Linked DNA regions of Homo sapiens: regions 1 and 3 are each linked to region 2. The links come from fine-mapping of genetic effects on gene expression. A gene starts in region 2. Each other region holds a variant in brackets. All regions are shown on one strand. Distances are from middle to middle. Region 1 overlaps TLE4 (TLE family member 4, transcriptional corepressor). Region 2 holds the start of TLE4 (TLE family member 4, transcriptional corepressor). Region 3 overlaps TLE4 (TLE family member 4, transcriptional corepressor).

Region 1 (5,227 bases), 130 kb after region 2:
TGACATATTTTAGTGGTACCTTCTGACTCCTCATTATCCCATTTATCTGTTTGAAAACTGATTTACCCTTTTGTACCGTGTGGATACGATTTTTGAAGGCCATAGCTGATGAGCAAACAAGCCATAACGAATGAGTTTTAGGCTGCTTGATCATGGTTTCCATGCGACCTTTAGCATGTTCTTTCTGGTTGTTATCGTCTATGGGCAGGGAAGTCTAAGCACTGCACCTGTGTGAATGGAAAGCAAAATTGGCATGGTGTGCATTTGAAATCAAATTAGAAAGTCCATTGTGGAGATGGTATTTGCAGTCTTGCCTCTGTGCAGTATTGAACCAAAACCTTATCGTGATTGTTGAAAGGAGAAAAGTTTTGGTGAATAGTAGCATATTAAAACCCTATAATTATGGGGCATCAGAATATCTATGCTGGGGGAAGTCCTACACAAATGTCTAGAAAAGACCTAACATAAGGTTTAAAATAGAAGATCCACACTAGGTCACCATCCCAATCTCTAAAGTAAGTAGAATCAACTGGAGTCCAGTATACAGTGATAGGACTAAGTTGCACTGTTGAGGGGCTAGGCTATGTGCCTGGGACTGCGCGTTGTACTTTATGTGGATTATTTTTCTTGGTCTTCAAAGCAGCCCGTGGGGCTGAGAATGGTGTGTTGTTACCCCAGACTAAAGAGAGGCTGAGACTAAGCAACATCCCTTACGGCTATTAAGTGAAGACTCTAGACTCACACCAGGCAGTCTGACTCCAGAGAGATGCTCTTGCCTGCTATTAAAATCTGTGCTCCCTGTTATTAAAATTAGCTAATTATAACAACAGCATCTTCTTTTGGAGGGGGAAGTTACTTTATAGAAGTCTTTCTCATACATTGTCATCTTTGATCTTGAGGTGGCAGAGGAGTAAAGGTGGAGGGGTGGGGCCTTCCCTTTCAAGTTGCTGGAGGTGTCAGTTTTCCATCTGACTTGGTCAACAGCCCTAGTAAAGTCTGGGATGGTCTTTAATCTAGGAACTAGAATCTTCTCATAGTGAAATTAGAACCTGATTATAGCTTTTTAAAGCTTACCTTTTGCTACCAAAGCAATTGGGGTTTCCATGTAATAAGTCTTTTAATCCTTTAGTATTTTTTTCTTGGTTTCTCCTTGTTTTCCTGCTCTTTTTCTTAAACAGATCTACCCTGTTCTTTTTAAATATCCCAGCATAAGTGTTTACTTTTAAAATCCAGAGCTTTACTAAACATTCACATTCAGGGTATTTTGCTTTCTCTGGATCAGCCATTGCTTGTGACCGTGACTCTCCAATCATAACAGATTTGCTGAGATACACACACACATACACACACACACGCACACTCAAACTGTAGTGAGAAAGACTTGTGTTTAATCCTTCTAAATTTGTAGATTTATAGGGTCACAATGCAGCTTCAGTAAGTTTCTTATGTAGTAAACTTGAGAAATATCTAAATTGAGCTTTTAAAATAATAATAGAGAAATAAAAAATAATAAAATAAAAAGCTTTTCTAGTAAAAGCATGACTTTATCGGTATTTATTTAATTCCTCTTATTCACATGCCTAGCAAAGATCCAAGTGGCATTCCTGTGGCAGAATGGTGGACTTACAAGATTCATGATGAGAGTCTGTGCCAAGTCCAATTTGATTCCAGAGTAATTATGTTATTAGAACATTGCTGATTGCCCCAGTGCCCACTGTGCAGCTTAACCTTTAAATGCTAGTGATAATTAACTACTTTATCATTCTACCAAGAAACTCCAACATGTAACTCTGTTCTACAGTCAACTTCAAAAATACAACGCTGCCTGCAAAACCGGAAACAGCTAGCTTAAGAAAAATATAAAGTATTTGGTTGTACATATGAGCCAATAAATGAACATAAAATCTAAATCTAAATAGGCATTACCTTTTAGTATTTTTAAGAAATTGTTTTGTTTAGAAATTTTTCCTCTTAAACAATGTGGAAATAACTTTCAATAGAATATAGCAGAATCAGAGAATTGTTAATAAAAGATATATATACTCCATTTTTCTTCTTTTTGTAAAATATGAAATTAGCCAGATTTAGTGCATCTAAAGGTAAGTAAAGGAGCAAAGGTGAGGAAGGGGCTGAATTGCCATATTACCGATTCCAAGGGCACCACAACACAAATCTTACTCTAGTGAATGGTCTCCCATGGAATTGTTCATCCTAGTGATGCTCAGAAAAGGAATGTATCATAAGAGATTTGGAGTGAGATTGAGGCGTGCAGAGGGGATGTTCAGCCATTTGTGTTGAGAAATATTTCTGGGCAGTTCCCTTCTGCTCATGATGCTAGGTGCCCCACCCTCAGGGAACCCACAGCCTAAAGTGGGAAGTGGCCTTGTAAACACAGCAATAAATTTGTTGTGAGTGCTTTACTCATT[G/A]GAGGAACAAAATGTTAAGGGAACAAAGAGGAATGAATGATTAATTCTGCCTGACAGCATCTGAGGAAGCTTTGAAAGGTGACATTAGAGCTGATTCTTAAGGATAGTGGGGGATTTCAAAAGATAGATCTTGAGAAAATAGTCATTGCCATAAGCCAGGAAAAAAGGCTACAGGTGCAACGAAAATACACAGAGCCCAGGGGAACACTGGCTTATAGTGCTGATGTAGGATACAAGGCCAGGACTCTGGATTGGGGTGTGGAGTGAGGACTTTGGAAAACAGCCATACTCAGAAATTTGGAATTTTTTTCCCCCTGTGAACAGTAGGAAACTGTCCTTTTAAAAGAGGAGTTAAAACAGGCTGAACCTCTCTTTGGGAAGTATGAATTCCAGAAGTGAGGTGGATAGACTGGAGAGGGGAAAACTAGAAACGGGATTGAGGCATGAAGTATGGTAGATAGTAACCCACAGATGATGATTGCATGCATGGTTTCAGTGGTCATGAAAACCTACTGAGTGCATTGGGTTGTGTGAAAGCAAAGCAGAAGTGTTGACCCAAGTCTCATGGCTTGGGAGTGAGGTTTGGAACTCAGCAGAGATACACAAAAGTCAAGAAGTAGTCCACTTTAAAAAATCGTTTGGCTCGTAATGTTTTGTGTCAATCTTCAGCCTTACTGAATAATGCCTGCAGTCTTTTCTGCCACTAAGTTTAAGGCTGAACGTTTGATAGGTCTAGGGCTAGAGTATTCATATAAAACCTCAAGAGGGGCTGGCACAGCAGGGACGGATTTAGAGGTCCCCAGCCCGCCCAGTGGGCACCCACTCACTGGTCCCATCTCTCTCCCCCACCAAACTCCCACCTGCACATCTTTGGAGCTTGTAATAAAGAGTTGCCATCACCACAGGTATGAAGAAAGACCATCAATCTTCTTAACAATGTGCTTTGGAAGTTCAGAAATGCCACAAAAGAGATTGTGACATTAAGGCTCAGTGGAAATAAAATGGAACATAGACCCAAAAGTTCTGGGTAACACACTTTCTCTCATAGTTAATTAAAAGGGCCTCGTAAATGTTGTATGTTTTTATAAACATCAGTTATTACCAACAGACTAAGATAAAGCAAAAAAAAAAACCCGTTCAAAGAGTTAGTCTTATATGAAATAAATTTATAAATGAGGAAGAGCTTTCCTGACCAGTTTTCTGAATTGATTTGCATGCCAGACAGAGACGTTCCAGTGGTGATTGTTCTTCCTATAACTTTTTTTCCATAGAGATTTTCAGATATTCTTTCTACTACTCTCCAAGATCAGCCCTTTGTTACCCTGGGTTAGGGTCATTCACACTTGGGAGCCCTGCCCTGGTGCCCTGCCAAGGGACTGTGTTACTCAGGTTTTTGCCATTCACCACTCAGCAGCATAGCGCAGCCCTCAGTCCAGCTCCCGCTCTCCCACCTCACCTGCATTTAGATCTTTTCTTTGGTCTGTCTGAAGCTTAGTCACTAGGCAGTTGTTAAGATTGTTCCAGTTTTCATTGGCACTTTTTTCACTTCTTCATCCATGATTTTAAGCTCTCATATTATCTAAATGTGCCCAATAACCACCTGACCTTCATGGCAGATAGAGTCATTCTCTGCTTCAGGTCTTGTCACCCACGTCTCTTGTGTGTATAGGAGACTTCTCCAGTTGAGAGCTCCTTGAAAGCAGAGGTGAAGCATACAGGCTGAGCCTAAGTGTGGTCCCAAGAGGCATGGAGCATCTTTCTCCATTCCCTGGCCCCAGTGGCATTCCTAGGTTTCCAGACATTGAAAGGTGTGGGTTCATGAAAACTATAGGAGTGAGAAAGGAATAATACGCATTTCTGCAGGTGGTGTTTTTCCTGCCACTCTGTATCTTCCAGGCCCTAACATATGGCGCTGAGCAAAACTTCATAAATATGACCTATATGTCACATGACTGCCATCTTTGGTTGCTCAAATCCCCCAAAATTACTTTCCCCCCTTTTTTTTTCATTGACTTACTAATTACCTCTTAAAAGCTCTACTTTATAGTTTTTCTATAGAAGCTTGAAATGCTGGCTTCCCATTAGCCAGCAAACTTTAAAAACAAAACAAAACAAACAAACAAAAAAACCTGGCTTTTTCTCCTTCCCTTTTTTCTCATATATGCTTCCTTTCCCAACTTTCTTTCTTTTTTTTGAGACAGAGTTTCACTCTGTCGCCCAGGCTGGAATGCAGTGGCGCCATCTTGGCTCACTGCAGCATCTGCCTCCCGGGTTCAAGCAGTTCTCCTGCCTCAGCCTCCTGAGTAGCTGGGACTGCAGGCACGCCACCATGCCCAGCTAATTTGTTTTGTCTTTTTAGTGGAGATGGGGTTTCACCATGTTGGCCAGGATGGTCTCGACCTCCTGACCTTGTGATCTGCCCGCCTTGGCTTCCCAAAGTACTGGGATTACAGGTGTGAATCACCATGCCCAGCCCCTTTCCCAAGTTTCTAAAGGCACTTCAACAGTACAATATATCCGTAAAACCAAACCCATTCTGTTTTGAGTTTACACTAATTCCTGCCACCCTTTTTATTTCCTCTCCTCCCTCTGTCCCATCTCTCTGCCTCTTCTCGTTTTTTCTTTCTTTCCCATTATCTTTCCCCCTTGTCTTTTGCTACTTGTCTTTCCCTTTATATCCCTGTTTTCTTCCTTTCGTCTCCTCCGCTTTCTCCTATCTCCTCTTAACAGCTTTGCAAGTATATGCTAAAGAATAAAAAGAAAAGAAAGTCTCAAGTGACTTAAAAATCACTCGGCTAAAT
Region 2 (5,227 bases):
GGATCACCTGAGGTCAGGAGTTCAAGACCAGCCTGACCAACATGGAGAAACCCCGTCTCTACTAAAAATACAAAAAATTAGCTGGGTGTGGTGGCGCATGCCTGTAATCCTAGCTACTCGGGAGGCTGAGGAAGGAGAATCGCTTGAACCCAGGAGGCGGAGGTTGCGGTGAGCCGAGATCGTGCCATTGCACTCCAGCCTGGGCAACAAGAGCGAAACTCTGTCTCAAAAAAAAAAAAAAAAAAAAAAAAAAGTGTGTGCCTGCAGTCCCAACAACACTGGAGGCTCAGGCAGGAGGATAGCTTGAGCTTCAGAGTTTGAGGCCAGCCTAGGCAACACAGGAAGACCCCCATCAATACAATAAATAAATAGAAACAGACAAAATTAATTTTACTAATATTTTTAATTGAGTTATTCAAAATATCACAATTTTGACATAATTATAAATTATTGAGCTGCAGTTTTTTCACATTAATTTTTTCAAAATGCCACATATATGTGTACTTACAGCACATCTCATTTTGAATTGGACACATTTCAAGTGCTTAACAGTCACATGTGGCTAGGTATGGAACAGCAGAGGTTCAGAAAACTGTCAAAAGGACTTCTCTGTCCTCTTATTTTGGGGATGGAGGCGAAAATATTTGCCGAATTGAAACATTCTGTGAACTTTGGCTCTGGGTTTTTAGTATGAAATTAGAGGCAGGTGAAGACCACCATAGCCTTCCTTTGCACCAGCTCACTACAGTGGCCAGAACGGAAGGAGGTTCACAGAACGTGCTAGGTTGGACATTAAGTCACCGAGTCATCCACTGAGGAAAGGGATATCATTAAGAAGAATAGTTTTCCACTAACGCCGAACCGGCGGCACCATCTCAACCAACAGGTCAAGTTACAGTAGGCAAGCACGCATAGAAATAAACGTCTAAAACCCAGCCTGTTACATTAGCCAACACTCTTCTTGACTTTTTCCGAATTTTTTCCCTGTCCCCAAGATTAGCCGCTCGCTAGAAAAGACTGCGAGCCTCAGCAGCCTCCCCTTGAACTGGGGCGCTGCCTCCAGCTGGACACGGACTAAGGATGGAAAGGCGCACTGACGGAGGCCGCCCCCATTTCCCAGGCCCCTCCCTAGGGGTGCCCCTCCTCAGCCATGGCTGCCCCTTTCTCTCCTCCTCCAGCATCTGCCCCTGGGGCCACCCCCACCTTTCCGCCATCTCTCGGGCCCGCGTGGCACCCTGCTCTGTTTTTAACGGGGATAAACTTGACTTGCTTCTCCAAAGAGCGGGAAAAAGAGGCGCAGTCTTGGTACTGATCTGGGGGAGGGAACGTCCCAGGGCGCGCAGGGGCGTTTTCTACCCGTGCCCCGTCGGCCTGCTCTGTTCAGTACCGACCGTGTTCGGGGTTCACGTGGCCCAGTCGGCAAAGTTTCTTTGGAGGTCCAGCGTCTCTGATTCCCGGATCTTCAGCCCCACCCGGAGCCCCCACGGTTACTGCCCCCCGCGACCCCCGATGGAGCGTCGGGATGCGCTTTCTCTCCGAGTGCCTCCGGGGGTGGAGGGAGGGAGGCCTGTTTCGGAACTAAATGGCAATCACAGCCCCCGCGGGGCTTGGAGGGACGAGCTCCCCGCCCACCCCGCGGCCCCGGCCCCAGCCAGCATCTCGCGACTCCATTTCTGGCTCTAAACAAGAACGGGGACCGAGTCGCGTTCACACGGAAAATTATGCCGGCTCCAGCGGCGCGTAAAATTGATGTGAACCGAACGAAGTAAGATCAGCGTGATCCTCCCCCTCTTGTCTCAACAGGGGTTTCGGCGCGTTACACAAGGCCGAGCTTGTCTCTTTAAGGAGACATTGGACCCTAATTAGTCCGCATTCCTGGCGCGGCTGCGGAGCGAGGGGCCGAAGGTGTCTGGGTTGGGAGACGGGTGGGCGGGAGGACGAGACTCGGAAGAAGATCTTTTGACCAGCCCCCAGGCTCACCGCTCCCTCCACCCTCTTTATTTTGCCGCCACCACCACCACCACCACCAACACCTAATTCTGAAGATGCAGCCAGGGCAGCAGCAACAGCAGCAGCCGCCGATTCTCCCAGCCCCACGTTACTTTGATTGACAGCTGAACAAATGTTTTCCCGGTTCGAACGCTCGCGCTAAGGAACGTCAGCCAAGGCGAAGCTCCGCCTTGGGCGGGCCATCTCCGCCCCGCCTCCGCCAACCTCATTCCTCTTCGTTAATTGGTCGGAGCTACAGGCGACGCCCGGCCCCCACGTGGGTTTCAGCTGGGTTGGCTCCTCCCCGCTGGCTTGCCATTTGTCAGCAGTGAAATGATGGGCACTAACACAGAACGGCGATTAATGTTCAGCCACCTCTGATTGGTTGGTGGAGACGCCTACCGCAACGGGGGTGGGCGGGGCGCTTGGAGAGCTCGCCAGAGCGCTCGCATGGCGGGCCGGTGATTGTAGTCAATCTGGCCGTATTCTCAGGCAGGGTCGCCCGGGGCGGACTACATCTCCCGGGATGCTGCGCGGCCGCCCCGCGGAAGATTGTGAATATGTATCAGAATGTTAATGATTAGCTGCTGCTAAATTTGGTCAAAGAAGTCACCTACACAGAGCGTGTTGTTAGAGCTGTGCTGAGCGGGTGTTTGGGTTGTTGGCTGCTTTCTTCCCCCTTTCTCACACACTTGTATATTATTTTGAGGTGGTGTTCGCAGAGTTTGAAAGGAGAGAGAATTAAAAAAAAAAGCCGCAAGCGTTTCACTCTTTTATTTTTATAATCCCCTTCAATTTGGGGTTAAAAAAAAGACAAGAAAACAGGAAGGAAGAGAAATAAGGAAATGAGATGTGGTAAAAGAAGCTAAAAGGTGCCTTTTAAAAGATCGTTGCTGTGAAGTGAAAAAAATCTCCAGAGAAACCAAAAAGCACCGCCGAGACCTCTTCCGAACCAAAGGAGTTTGTGTTTGCTTTTAGGGAAGAAGAAAGATCATTCATTCGGAGGAATAACAACCAATTAAAAGACAAATAAAAAAAGTTTGGAGTGGGACGCAGAGCGAGCGAGAGGAGCTGCCGGCGGGCGGTGGGGCGCGGAGCCCGCACTTTCCCGGCCGGGTGAGCGGCGGCCGCGGCGCCGGGCTCGGCGGGTGCGCCTCGGCGGAGCGAACGTCGGAGCGTTGCCTTGGGAGACGCGCGCCGGACAATGCCCGCGGCGGGCCAGTGACGCCCGCGGGGAATGCGGAGCGGCCCGGCAGCCGGCACCCAGCCGCCGCCGCGCGTTCCTGCCGCCCGTGTCACGCGAGACCCGGCGGGGGCCGGGACCGCCCGAGCCGCCCCTCAGACCGAGCCGGCCGCCTCCGCTGCCGCGGCCGCCTCCTCTTCGGGGTCATTAAAGCCAATGAGCCGCGCGCCTCTGCCGAGCGCAGCCAACTAAATCGGCTTGGATGATTCGCGACCTGAGCAAGATGTACCCGCAGACCAGACACCCAGTGAGTGCGGGCGGCGGGGCGCGGGCTCGCCGGGTGCTGGGGGATTCCCCGCGTCGCCCCCTGCGCACCGAGTTGTGTCTTTTGGCCGGAGGGGCGTGGAGAGCCGCCCGAAATCGGCGCCCCGCGCCGGGAGCAGCCCGCCCGCCATCACCCCCACCCCCCGGCGCGGTGGCCCTCGGAGGGGGTGCGGAGAGGCAATTGAGTTGTAGCCATTTTCTTATTGTTGTCTTTGAAGCCCCTGGAAGCCGCGCCGAGCCGTTTGCGGTCCCCGCGCCGCGACTCCTCGAGGGGGGGTGGCGAGCGATGAAGGAGGCGCGACTCCGCGCCCGGGCGGGGAGGGCGCCCTCGGCAGCGGCGCTGCTGGGCTGGCTGCGGTTTGGAAGTGCGGGGCGCCGGCCCCTCGCGCCGCGGGCCGCCGGGGCGAGCGGGCGAACGAACGAGCCGAGAGGGTGGCGGCCGCCTCCCTCCTCCCCCGGCCTGACCGCAGCCCGACGCCATGGCGCGGGTCCCCCCGACGGGCCAGTTTCGATTCCGGGTGAGGAGGGAGTGGGCGCGGCGCGCGGGTCCCTGGGTGCCTGTCTTTGGCCGGGGAGGGGAGACGGGACTCGAACCCTCGGGGTCCGGGGCGCGGGGGCCTGCGGGCGGGAGTATGCGGGGCCCCAGGACCACCTCGAAACCAGCCTCTGCCTGGGCTGTTGGGCGCGAGGAGGGTTGCGGGAGGAGAGTTTTAATCTCTCTTTGCTTGCGTGCGCGATGACCCTCACCCCCCGCTAACGCCGCATAGTAGGTTTTCTCCGTCTCCCTGCTTCGCCTGTGATGTGGGCTAATTAAATATTTTATTGTTGTTCTTCAGGCACCGCATCAGCCTGCTCAACCCTTTAAATTTACAATTTCCGAATCCTGTGATCGGATTAAGGAAGAGTTTCAGTTTTTACAGGCTCAATACCACAGGTAACGATATTGACTTTAGCTGATCCTTCTGTTTGCTTAGCTCTTGTCTCCCCGACAAATACACACAAACACTTACCCTCCTCCTTTTTTGTGGGGGCGTCACAAAGGTATTATTTTTTTTTCTCGGTGGGCAGAAAGGGCAAATCAAGGCCTCCTTCCTTAGGCAGGTGTAAATAAATTAAACATTTCTTCTACCGTAAATAAAAAGAAGGCAGAACAATCGAAACTGGGGAGACTTGGAAAACGCTGAGGCCAAACTTTCGATATTGATTTATTGGGGCCGGGAGAATGAAAGGTTGGGAAGATTCTGGGGCCTTTTGACATCCTTGGTTCTTTATTACTCCGGACTTGATTCCTTCTCACTTTTTTCTGCCATTCCACTGAAGAGCTGAGAGCCCAGGGAAGTCGGAGTGAGCGATTTCATTACTTTTATGCTAAAAAAAAAAAAAATGTTTTCATCTTATAGACGATTTTTAGACTTAGGGTGCCTTTGAGACATTTTTCTTTAGCTGGCTTTTTAATGATGCCTAATTCTTATTTCATAAATGCAAGAACCAAAACAAACCACTGAACCCGATTGACACTTTGCCCCTGGGTGGTGGTATTCAACTTGTCTGTGTGTTTTGGAGGGAAAAAAACAAGATATCATTCATAAGACATGCTTGATTCATATTTTCATTAATCTCTTTGTAGAACATTAAAGAAATTCCCTTGTGACGTTTTGGAGGACTTATTTGTGCTTGTATGTGCAGTCATTATTGAAGTTTATTTTCGTGTTTGTTTTATTAAGTGAATAT
Region 3 (5,209 bases), 150 kb after region 2:
GATTAAATCCAGAAAGATAGGCTTTATTTTTGAAGTGAAAGTTATTTTTTACAAATGGATGAGTTTTCTGTTAATAGTTTGGTGTTCTATAAAGCAAATCTTGGTGTCTGACAGAGTAACACAAACATTGCCTTTTTCAAAACCCTTTACCTATAGGCAAATGGTTTGTAAGCACTGGAAAGGACAACCTTCTGAATGCCTGGAGAACACCTTATGGGGCCAGTATATTCCAGGTAACATGGAACTTGTTAACTACCACTTATGTTTGTTTAATCAAACTCTCTGTGCATTCTCTCAGATTAATAATGTGCAGAAGTGTCCTGGGAGGTCAGAGCTAGTATTATGCACATTGTACAGAGAAGGAAACTGTGTCCAAGGAGAGGTTAAGTGTCACAGCAAAGCCGTGGAGCTGGGGATAGTCCCCAGTGTTCTGAGCTCAGAGCCAGTGCTGTGCCTGATTCAGTGCTCACTGTTGCTTCATCATCAATCCCTTTTTGGAGTAGAGGTTTTATGTCTTCTGAGAATTTTATACATGTATGTCTTTTGTAATTTTTAATTTTAAAACTTGAGCATTTTGCTTAAATACACTCTTGTTAGTAGTAGTAGTTTTTTTATTTTATTTTTTCCAAAGAAGAGTGTTATGGAAAAGTTTGATAAAAATCAGTTTTATAAACTTTTATTTTCCCTATTGACTCAGTGGAACTTTGTATAGCTTGTGAAATTATTTGTAGAAGGACCAAATTGTAGACATAGTACACATATATGCACGCGTGCACACACACGCTCTCCTCCTCTCTCCTACTGGTATGTGAGAATTTCATAGGCAAGGTGAAAGACTTGCCTTTATTAACCTTCTATATTTAGGATGTTATTTCCTAGTGTTCTTTTTTACAAGCAATATAATAGACTTGCAGTTTTCTTGACCAAGTGGTATTATCATAAAGTAGATTAATTCCATCGAATCCAAAATAGTATGCAAGATAATCAGTAGGACAAAAAACGCCAATTGTTGCAGTCATGAAGCTTAGAATTTAATAGAGCATTTTTCATAACATGGATTATCACTTGTTAGATAGTCCCAACTGCACTTTAAAAAAAGAGTAGTACATTTTTTATAGTAAGCATAAGTACTATGTCTTTAAGTGTTTAAAGTATTCAGAGTCCTGGTTAAAATCCTGTGTTGTTTTCATTTTAAATGAGCACAGTTTAGTTAAAAGTTAACATTGAATCCTTCATACTACAGTTGAATATGGTATACAAAATTCTATGGTATGTTTTTAACTGTTGAACCTCTCCCCTCTCGCAAATTTGTGTCACATTTTTACAGTGGGAACATTAGGCTTTTTACTAGGAATATTTTTACATTCTTTTTTTTTTTTTAATGTATTCTCAGTGCCATTTCTCATATCTGATCTCACTGAACTCTGCTGCATCCCTCTGAGGTGGTAGACAGGTAAAATGTCTACCTGTTTGCTATTGTAAGGAAACTGAGGTGCAGACAGGTTAAGTGACCTGTGCCGTGTTCCACAGCTCAACCTGACTCCAAGCCATCTGTTTGAAGTTGAGGGTTTTTCATACCAGTAACACCCCGTCTTAATGGTAGAATAGGGTTTGAAATAAGGTCTTGCTTTGCCAGCAGAGGTGCTCATGCCATTGGCTTGCCTGCCTAGCTGATGTCCCCAGGACAGAAGCCTCCTGACTGACCTGGTGAGGTGTCGCCAAGGGTGGATCCGATCCACCTCTGCCATTTTAAGAAAGTGCCACGTGGTGGCTCATGCCTGTAATCTCAGGCATAATTTGGGAGGCCAAGGCAAGAGGATCTCTTGAGCCCAGGAGTTCGAGACCAGCCTGGGCAACTTAGTGAGACCCTCTCTCTACAAAAAAAGTTTGAAAATTAGGTGTGATTGGACACATCAGTGTCGTAGTCCCAGCATCTCAGGAGACTGAGGTGGAAGGATTGCTTGAGCTCAGAAGGTCGAGGCTACAGTGAGCCATGGTCACACCACTGCACTGCAGCCTGAGTGACTGAGGGAGACCCTGTCTTATTAAAAAAAAAAAAAAAAAAAAAAAAAAAAAAAAGCAGCAGTACTGTCCATGACCACCTTTCACCTTTCCTTGACTGGGCTTTCTGTTTGGTCAAGGAGCACATTACATTTGCATTTGCTCTAAGTCCTCCATACTCATGGGATTTTCTTTCAGTATTTAACATTTTTGATTATATGTTTCTTTCCTAGTCCAAAGAATCCTCATCGGTGCTTAGCTGTGACATCTCCGTGGACGACAAATACATTGTCACTGGCTCTGGGGATAAGAAGGCCACAGTTTATGAAGTTATTTATTAAAGACAAATCTTCATGCAGACTGGACTTCTCCTCCTGGTAGCACTTTGCTCTGTCATCCTTTTTGTTCACCCCCATCCCCGCATCTAAAACCAAGGATTTCAGATACTCATTGCAGTTGTGGAGTTTAATCCCCTTTCTTAACCTCACTTCCCACTTGCTATTGAATTGTGAATAGTCATTAAAAACCTGTGATACCAAATCTTCAGCTGTCTACTTGGAAGAACATGGAATAAGCATACTTAACAGTGAAAAGAATCTTTAATTATGTATTATATCTGTAATATATTTATTTTGTTTAAAGAAGGCTTTCTAACAATGACTGACTAAATAAAGCTGTCTGCTCCTGCATTGATAATGAAGGTGCGTTGTATTTGATACCCCTCCCCCCCTTTTTTTGGCAAAGGAGGGGAAAGGAAGGTTTAAAATAATTGATTTAAAATGTCACTAAGTGTAGACTGATGACTGTATAGAGATGTGAAATGTATAATTACACATGGAAGCAATATGTTGCTGTGTTGTTATTAGGTTTTTTTTGTTTTTGTTTTCTACATCTTTTAAAGACTTTTGGAAATTTGGCTGAACAATTAGAACACAACAGGCCAACTCATACTCATTTGGATCTATTTAGACAACGTTAACCAATATATCTATAGCTTTAGATTATATTCGATAAAAGTAATTGGACTTTTTTTCTTTTTTTGACTC[G/A]TTGACAAGTGTCTTTGTAATATGTTTTTAGTTCCCTTTTTTTGTTGTATTATAGGCAGATGAACAAATTAAATTTGGCCTCAAAGAGAGAACTTACTCCCTTCTGGATATTTTTGCCACATTTCTTTGCAAAAGGAGATATATATATCTTTAGTCAGTTTTGTTGTTATGAGAAATTATGGGTTATTTTGTGGCATGCTCTTTGGGAGCTGCACAGTTATGGGGAGGACTCCCACTGCTGTGCAAGTTAAGTCTTTTACAAAACAAGGACAGCAGAGGAGGGTTTGCAGAGACCTCCCTCTGAAAAACACAAAGAATGGACTCTCTCCTGGGATGAGGACTTGCTTTCTTTACCTCCGGTTCTTTCCATGTCTTAGTTGGATGTCCCTGAAATGGACACAGGCTGTGCCATTGTGCCAGAAACATTGTGTTATCTTTTATGTTGTTGTTGTTGCTGTTAAACTATAATATGTGACTTCTTTTTTTATTATTTTTTGTTTGAATGCTTTAAAAATCTTTTAAGTCTGTGGATCTGCTGATGTACAGTGCCTTTGCTGCTATGGATCAAAATCAAAAGAACCGTGTAGATATACTTTATTGTATAAGTAGAAAATTACTTAATTTCATACTAGAAATGGATGGATGCTGCAAGTTGAAATGGACTGTCCATTGACGTTCCTAATGTGGTAGCAGAAAAAAAAAAATGGTGTCTTAAGTGCTTAGTGTTTGATGTCATTAACAGTTTCGTAAAACTCTACAGTGTAGAAAGATTTTGATACTAAACTGTGCGTTGTACATAGTTCTAATGCATTGTATTGACCACCAGTACTTCTATAATGGTAGATTGTTTGTGAATTCAGACTTTTAAGCATTAAACATAAATAACTTCTAGTATGCTTATTTTTCTAATTCTTTGTCTTGATGACATTAGTTTATTTTTTATCTTTGGCTGTGCCACTCCTATATATTAAAAATGCCTAGTTTTTTCAAGGGAGATTGTTGTTAAAGTAAAGTGGTTTTTTTTGTTGTTAAAGTAATGTGGGTTTTTTTCACTGTTGCTGTTTTTGTTTTGGTTTTGTCTTTACTTGAGAGGAGCTAGAAAAGGTAGGTGATAGAAGTTAACAGTGACCAGTTGGTGCTAAATATTTATTGAGTACCTCTTTGATTTATAAAAATACTGCTTACCAAAAGGTTATCATGTCCCTCAAACCCTTGATGCTTTAGAGCTATGCTGTTCAATATGGTTACCCTAGGCATTTGTGGCTCTTTAAATTTATTAAAGTTAAATAAAACTAGAAATCTAATTTACCAGTCACACAAACTACATTTCAAGTGTCAAGTAGCCACATGTGGCTAATGGCTACCGTATTGGACTAGACACATCAACACGGGCTTTAAGTTAGCCAATGTAAACCATTGCCAGCCATGTGGATTTGGGAAGCATTTCTAGCATAACACACTGAGGTCTTTACACCAGGCTTCTTGGGCTGCTACTGGTTGGGTGTATGAAGATTCAGTATAAAGAGGAGTTTAAATTAAGAATTCTAAAGTGCTGGGACTCAAAAATCCGACATTTTAAGGTTCTACTAAGTAGGAGGATTGGAAGCCCCACAGTAGTCTGGAGGGATCATCTATAAGAGATACTTCGGTTGCTGAGTTAAGTACAGTATTCATCAGTTGGACTGGAAGCCGCACTTCCATTGTGATACCATGTGCGTTGTTACATCAAATGATGACACACAAGTCATTGAAGGCTGGCTGAAAAATTAAAAACCATAAAAAACATGGGGGTAAGTGATCATCTTCAAAGATGTGTCCCTAGACAGGATGATGGAGTTTATGTTGGACTGGGAAGGAATAATCTTCAATATCTGCTATGTACAGAGCACTGTACTGGCTTATATTACATATTTTATATATATACGTATATATAATATATACATACAATATTAGCCACCTACCCATTATCTCAGGTTTTTCACAGCTTGTGTACCTATATGGTCCAAAGATTTGGAAACCCTAAGGGAAAAGCAAGTCTGAGGAAGGTACTAATGCATCGAGTATATCTGTACACACTGGAAGACTGGGGGCGTCTGGAGTAAGAGGGAGGTGATTATCTAGGTAAGGCACAGAGCAGAGTTGTCCATGTGGACCGACACAGT

The links. PIP is the estimated chance that this variant, and not a neighbour inherited with it, causes the effect.
Region 1: its variant is fine-mapped to the expression of TLE4 in whole blood (TOPMed, PIP above 0.99).
Region 3: its variant is fine-mapped to the expression of TLE4 in whole blood (INTERVAL, PIP above 0.99).

The regions. Positions count from the first base shown.
Region 1 is chr9:79,699,512-79,704,738 of GRCh38, forward strand. The region is part of intron 8 of TLE4 (TLE family member 4, transcriptional corepressor); the gene reads left to right. Among named protein-coding and RNA genes, the nearest start is that of LINC01507, 120 kb to the right of the region's middle. The variant G/A (reference allele first, on the strand shown) is at 2,427.
Region 2 is chr9:79,569,357-79,574,583 of GRCh38, forward strand. TLE4 (TLE family member 4, transcriptional corepressor) reads left to right here and starts at 2,609. Exons shown (of 20, transcript NM_007005.6): 1 at 2,609-3,479; 2 at 4,333-4,430. The coding sequence starts at 3,435. RefSeq lists silencers at 1,081-1,130, 3,041-3,160, 3,221-3,380, 3,491-3,960, 3,981-4,220 and enhancers at 2,491-2,620, 2,631-2,680, 2,721-2,810, 3,538-4,150.
Region 3 is chr9:79,722,803-79,728,011 of GRCh38, forward strand. It overlaps TLE4 (TLE family member 4, transcriptional corepressor), which reads left to right. Exons shown (of 20, transcript NM_007005.6): 19 at 157-233; 20 at 2,235-4,080. The coding sequence ends at 2,342. Among named protein-coding and RNA genes, the nearest start is that of LINC01507, 99 kb to the right of the region's middle. The variant G/A (reference allele first, on the strand shown) is at 3,048.